Homo sapiens: one gene and its partner. The protein of the gene in region 1 purifies or fractionates together with the protein of each later gene. This does not show direct contact. Each region holds a gene or a part of one and is shown on either strand. Other genes may lie near its edges.

The links. The genes of interacting proteins can lie anywhere in the genome.
Region 2: the proteins of REST (region 1) and HDAC5 purify together in Homo sapiens (affinity purification with western blotting; 2 studies listed by BioGRID, with this or other methods). This does not show direct contact.

Annotation. Positions count from the first base shown.
Region 1 is NC_000004.12:56,914,400-56,917,899, reverse strand, and holds part of REST (RE1-silencing transcription factor), read right to left. Parts: intron 1-3,500. UniProt on the Homo sapiens protein: Transcriptional repressor which binds neuron-restrictive silencer element (NRSE) and represses neuronal gene transcription in non-neuronal cells.
Region 2 is NC_000017.11:44,085,642-44,089,141, forward strand, and holds part of HDAC5 (histone deacetylase 5), read right to left. Parts: intron 2,958-3,500; coding exon 2,746-2,957; intron 2,056-2,745; coding exon 1,771-2,055; intron 1,097-1,770; coding exon 931-1,096; intron 1-930. UniProt on the Homo sapiens protein: Responsible for the deacetylation of lysine residues on the N-terminal part of the core histones (H2A, H2B, H3 and H4).

The sequences.
Region 1 (3,500 bases):
TTTGGTATTTTTAGCAGAGACGGGGTTTCACCTTGTTAGCCAGGATGGTCTCGATCTCCTGACCTCGTGATCCACTCACCTCGGCCTCCCAAAGTGCTGGGATTACAGGCATGAGCCGCCACACCCGGCAAAACAAGCTTTTAAAAAAAGGTATACAATTTGTTTTAATATAGTCTCCAAACACAAGATAATTATGACCTTGGTAAAGCTACTAAAACACCGTTTCCCCATCTGTAAAAGTAACAGAATCTTCATTTCCTGTAATTGCAAAAGCTTAAATAATACATGCAGAGCATTTAACACTGTGTCTGGCACATAGTAAAGCCCTCAATAAATGTAAGCTATCAATTTTGTCTAAGACAGAAACAAATGTGTCTAATAAAATAAGGAAAAGGTGGTACACAGAAAAAAGAACAGGCCAGGCATGGTGGCTCATGCCTGTAATCCCAGCACTTTGGGAGGTAGGCGGATCATTTGAGCCCAGAAGGCCGAGGCTTCAGTGAGCCGTGACCACACCACTGCACTCCACACAGGGCAACAGAGCGAGACCCTGTCTTAAAACAAAAAACAAACAACAACAAAAAGAATGGTGATAGATGGGAAATGTGTTCCTCATAACTATTCTGCTGTAATTCGCTGGTAGCTACGAATTAGCTGTAAAGAGTTGGTAGCAACAGAATGCCTACCTTATGACCTGGAACAATTAAGATAGTTTTATGTTAATGGAATTCTGTAAAAAAAAGATTTACAAATAGCCAATAAACACATGAAAAGATGAACATTATCATTAGCAGTGAGGGAAATGCAAATCAAAACCACAAGGAGATGAAGACTTCATATCCACTAAGATAGCTGTAATCACAAAGACAGATGTTAACAGTATTATTGCTAAGGATGTGCTGAAATTGGAACCCTCACACATTGCTGGTGGGATTGTAAAATGGCATGGCTAATTTGGAAAACAGTTTGGCAATTACCCAAAATGTTGCTACTATACTGCCCCACAATCTCACGCTTAGGTATATATCCAAAAGAAACAAAAACATACGTCCACACAAAACTTAAACATGAATATTCATAGCAGCATTATTCAGACTGCTTATTATGATTCCACTTGTGTGAAATATTCAGAACAGGCCAATATATAGTGAACTGCATATGTAAACTGTATCTCAATAAAAAATTAAATACCACTGCAGATAAACTTGAAGAATCAAAGATAATTTACTTTTAAATTCTTTTATTTTATTATTATTTTTTTTTGAGACGCAGTCTCGCTCTGTCGCCCAGGCTGGAGTGCAGTGGCGCGATTTTGGCTCACTGCAACCTCTGCCTCTTGGGTTCAAGTGATTCTCCTGCCTCAGCCTCCCGAGAAGCTGGGACTACAGGCTAAGTGTTGTATTTTTAGTAGAGACAGGGTTTCACCATGCTGACCAGGCTGGTCTCAAACTCCCAACCTCAGGTGATCTGCCTGCCTCCCAAGGTGCTGGGATTACAGGCATGAGCCATCTCGCCCAGCCTGCTTTTAAATTCTTTACAACAGATTACTTTATCTGTGTAATTCCACAAACTAGGCATAACTCTCCTCCAGAAAGCTTAGTTACCTACTGATTTTTCAGTTACACATACAGGCAAAAAGGTTTTCTTTAAAAGTAGATTTTGTGAACAAGTTAAATATCAAAACCACTAAACTAAAGAGGTCAACCAGAATGAAAGTCCCCAGCTCCCCCCACCCTTTTGGTGGAGGTTGCAGTGAGTCGAGATTGCTGAACTTTAAATGCTACTTGTAGTTTGTTTTTGAGACAGAGTCTCACTCTGTCCCCCAGGCTGGAGTGCAGTTGCACAATCTCGACTCACTGCAACCTCCACCTCCCAGGTTCAAGCGATTCTCCTGCCTCATCCTCCCAAAGTGCTAGGATTACAGGCGTGAGCCATCGTGGAACGGCTATAAATGATACTTGTATATGACCTTGGGAACATCACTTCAGCCTTTTAAATCTGAAGTTTTCCCCTGTGTAAACATGAACTATCATCACAGATGCTATTTTCCTCAATGGATTGTTCTGAAGATTAGCACAGAATAGAAGGGCACAAGAAACACAATTAAGCCCACTAAGCCAATCAGAAAACTGGGCTACTTACTAATGCAAGTGGAAATGAGAAGTAATTCCTGAACACTATCAATTTAAGTGATTCCTGTCTTTTCTGTCTCTACTCTTCCGCACCAGATGAGTTTATTTTCCATAATTTTCAGAACTATCCATTTAATACCAGAGATACTTTCAGAATTTACATAATCAAAATATTAACCTTCAATCTATACATCACCAAATTGTTTTAAAATGTAATAAAGGCCAGGTTTGGTGGCTCACGCTTGTAATTCCAGCACCTTGAGAGGCCGAGGTCAGCTGATCACAAGGTCAGGAGGTCGAGACCAGCCTGGCCAACATGGTGAAACGCTGTCTCTACTAAAAATTTTTTAAAAAATTAGCTGGGCGTGGTGGCACGCACCTGTAATCCCAGCTCCTCGGGAGGCTGAGGCAGGAGAATCACTTAAGCCCTGGAGGCAGAGGTTGCAGTGAACAGAGATCACGCCATTGCACTCCAGCCTGAGCAACAGAGCAAGACTCCATCTCAAAAAAAAAAAAAAAAAAAAAAATACACACACACACACACACAAAATTGGCCAGGCGTGGTGGCTCACGCCTGTAATCTTTGGGAGGCCGCGGCGGGTGGATCACTTGAGGCCGGGAGTTCGAGACCAGCCTGCCCAACATGGAGAAACCTTGTCTCTACTAAAAATACAAAATTAGCAGGTGTGGTGGCGCATGCCTGGAATCCCAGCTACTCAGGAGGCTGAGGCAGGATAATTGCTTGTACCTGGGAGGCGGAGGTTGCAGTGAGCCGAGATTGCACCATTGCACTCCACCCTGGGCGACAAGAGTAAAACTGTCTCAAAAAAAAAAAAAAAAAAAAAGTTAAAAAAAAAAAAAATCAGAATGAAGGTAATACTGGGGAAAAATAAGCATTAAGACCAAATAAACCAGGCCAGGCTTGGTGGCTCAGGCCTGTAATCCCAGCACTTCAGGAGGCTGAGGTGGGCAGACGACCTGAGGTCAGGAGTTCAAGACTAGCCTGGCCAACACGGTGAAACCACATCTCTACTGAAAATACAAAAATTAGCCGGGCATGGTGGAAGGCACCTGTAATCCCAGCTAAATGAATATGGTGTACTTATTTATGAGTTTAGTATATATGATGGCTGGGATTTAAGATATTGTAGGTAAGGCTGGTTTAGTCTAACAGTCTGTCTAATTCAAACTGTCAAGTGATTAATGGGGTTGTGTCCCCAAGTAACTTTCATTTCCTACTTTATGTATTTTTGTAATGCTTGACCTTTACTTCTGAAATCGAATGGTTTCAAAGCATCGAGACAATCAATCACAGCTTATGACAAATTCCAAAGGGACTACAAATTCTTTTACTGGACTAAATTTTAA
Region 2 (3,500 bases), on another chromosome or scaffold:
CAGGCATGTGCCACCACGCCTGGCTAATTTTTGTATTTTTAGTAGAGACGGGGTTTTACCATGTTGGCCAGGCTGGTCTCGAACTCCTGACCTCAGGTAATCCACCCACCTCAGCCTCCTAAAGTGCTGGGATTACAGGCGTGAGCCACTGCACCCAACCTATTTTTTTATTTTTTATTTTAAAGAGACGGGGTCTCACTATGTTGCTCACGTTGGTCTCAAACTCCTGGGCTCAAGTGATCCTCCCACCTTGGCCTCCCAAAATGCTGGGATTACAGGTGTGAGCCACTGCACCTGGCCTTTCCTCTCCAGCCTTTGCCCCCTCTTGACTCCTCCTGAAATTCCTTTGCTCCATTATTGCCTATCAGAAGCTTCCCTGCTCCTCAAGCCCCAGCAAGGCTGCCCTGGACACTCGCATGAGTCTCATCTCTGCCAGCTGTGCCTCCTCAGCTGCACCCTTCTCACGGCACCTCCTGCTTTCCCCCTCCTGCCAAACCCGTGTCTTACTCTCCACGGGTGATACAGGGCCACCCTCAGGCACGTCTGTGTCCCCCCAGAGCCCAGCCTGTGGCAGCTTCATAGGGAAGAGGACTCTGGTCTCATCCCAGACCTCACAGGGAGAAGGAAGGGAAGGTAGAAGGTCAGGGCCCAACAGGGACAGCAGGCTCTCTCTACCCAGCACTTCAGGCTGTGGGGCAGTCCTTCCTTCAGCGGGGTGAGAAAGACGCTACCCACTCTCCCGGCTGAGGCAGAAGGCCCTGCCGCTACCATGAACAGCTCTGGGGTACAGGGAGAGAACGAAGGCCTGTGTCCCCTCCTTTCAGGGTGCCTAAGGGGCCCCAGCAGCCTCTTCCCCCTGCCATGGGGCAGACACCACACACAGGCCCTCTGGTGCCTGGCAGAAGGACCTAACAGTTGGTGGGGGCTCACCTGTGGTGAAGAGGTGCTTGACGGGCTGGTCTGGGGGGCTCTTCATGCCCCCAGGGGCAGCAGGGGAGGACTGGGTACGGCCCAGGGCCTGGTGGGGCACAGTGGCCAGGCTGAGGGGCGCCTGGTACACCTGCAAAGGCTGCAGCGGCTGGGCATCTGAGAACAGCTGGAGGGGAGAATGGGAGGGGGCCTGGGTCAGACTCAGCCAGGACAGGGGTGAGGGCAGGCCCTGTCAGGGCCTCCAGTGGGGCCCCAATCCAGCCCTTTTCTTCCAAGTCTCCTTCCCCCACCTCCTCCCACTTGCTCCCTCCAGGGACAGGAGACACATCTCCTCTGAGATGGGGAGGGATGGGGGAGATGTGATGAGTCACATCAAAGAGTAGCATTGAGGTAAGAGGCTGGGAGGGGTGGGGGCGGGGGCGGGGTGGGGGCGGGATGAGTCAGGCCCGGAGGGCTCGGCTGTGTCCGCAATGAATGGAGTGCCAGCTAGGCGCGAGGCAGACAGTAGTAACAGCGGGGGCGTGTGTGTACACACACGCACAGGCACGCACAGGGACCGACGCATGCATACACAGACACACAAGCAGAGAGGCAGGCCAGTATCACAGACACAGGGAGGGAACTGGCAGCCTAGGACAGACACAACTCTGAGATCAACACAAACAGCTCCCCCTTCTCCCCACCGGCCTCCTTCCCACTCCCCTTTTGCTCTCTACAGAAAGCTGCTCCTGCACAGCCTGGAAACTGCAGATGGGGGAGAGGGAAAGACAAGGGCAGAGGCAGGGGTGGAGAAGGACAGAGGGGTGGTGACCAAGGACTGGGACCAGGGACGGGGCTCACTTTTTTGTATCCAGCACCAGGCTCCTCCAAGTCGGGCCCCTCCTCAGCACCACTCTCGCCCTCCTCGTCCTTAACCTGGATGCAATCCTCCTCCTCCTCCCCATCGTCTTCCTCGTCCTCCTCCTCCAGGTCTTCCTGTGTGCTCTCACTCTCTGTGGAGCCCTCCCGGGGCATGGTCAGGGCTCCCTCCCCCAGCAAGACCTCCTGCTGCTCCGTCAGCTCCTCCTCTGTCTCCTCAGGGTGGGTGGTGGGCTGCCTGGGCAGCTCCCCTGTCTTGGTGAGGATCTGATAACAGAATATGGGGGCACATCAGCTGGGAGTTGGGGAGCAGCTGTGCAGCCTAAAACCCAGAACAGTCTATCCTTCCCTCCCTCCCTTCTTCCAGGTAGAGCTTCTATGTGAATTAGAAAAAGGTGAGGTAGCTCCTCTGAGAGGACTTTTTTTTTTTTTGAGACAGAGTCTCCCTCTGTCGCCCAGCCTGGCATGCAGTGGCACGATCTCGGCTCACTGCAACCTCCGCCTTCCAAATTCAAGCGATTCTCCTGCCTCAGCCTCCCCAGTGACTGGGGTTACAGGCGCACGCCACCACGCCCAGCTAATTTTTGTTTGTTTTTTTGAGACGGTCTCGCTCTTCTCACCCAGGCTGCAGTGCAATGGTGCGATCTGGGCTCAGTGCAACCTCCATCTCCCAGGTTCAAGCAATTCTCCTGCCTCAGCCTCCCGAGTAGCTGGGATTATTATAGGTGCCTACCACCACGCCTGGCTAATTTTTGTATTTTTAGTAGAGACGGGGGTTTCACCATGTTGGCCAGGCTGGTCTCGAACTCCTGACCTCAGGCGATCTGCCCACCTCGGCCTCCCAATCAGGCGCGAGCCACCGTGTCTGGCCTGAAAGGAGGACTTTTCTGCCAGCCTGGTACTCTCCTGTGTCCTGCCCCCACCACAGCCCCAGGCCATTCACCTTTCCAGGCTCACCTTGCCCAGCTGTAGCTGCTGCTGCTTCTGCTTCTCCAGGAACTGCTGGTGCTGTTGTTGCATGACCAGCTGCTGCAGGGCCTGGGGACTCTGCGGCAGCGGTGAGGACTGAGTGCGGCTCAGGGGCCGATGCCGCGGGAGCTTGCCTACCGTCCGCATGCTGGTGGCCACACGTTCACCCGTCACTAGTGGGGACTGCCCGTGGAGTGGCACTACGGAGTTGGGGGTGATGACTAAGCACCATTGTCAGGGCACCTGACTGCCCTCCCACCGACCCTGCATCTTGCCCCCACAACCCCCTCTGGCATATCACCACCTATATACTCAGGAAAAACCCTGGGGGACCTGAAGCACCCCCCACCCAAACCTGAGCTCCATTCTTCCTCTTCCCCATGAATGAAGAGTTTCACAGCTCTAAGGTACCACCTCCAGCAAGCCTTCCTGGATTCACCATCTTTTCCCTTCGATTTCCTTAACTGAATAAACTGAGTATACATTTAGTCTTGAGCCCTCTGAACGAACAATGACTTTTCTCCCTAAGTGCAACAAGGCCTCCCTGATCATGGATCCTCCCCGTGGATCCCGCCAGGCTAGGAAGCCCTAGGGCCAGGATCATGTATCTTTCAAGCAGAACCTCTTCTGGTGCCAGGGCTCTTTAGACAGCCCTGGTACTTAAGGGCTGTCTAAAGTTGTGCTGTCTAGTCCCATAGCTACTAGTTACATGTGACTGCTGAGCCCTTGCACACAACCTGTCT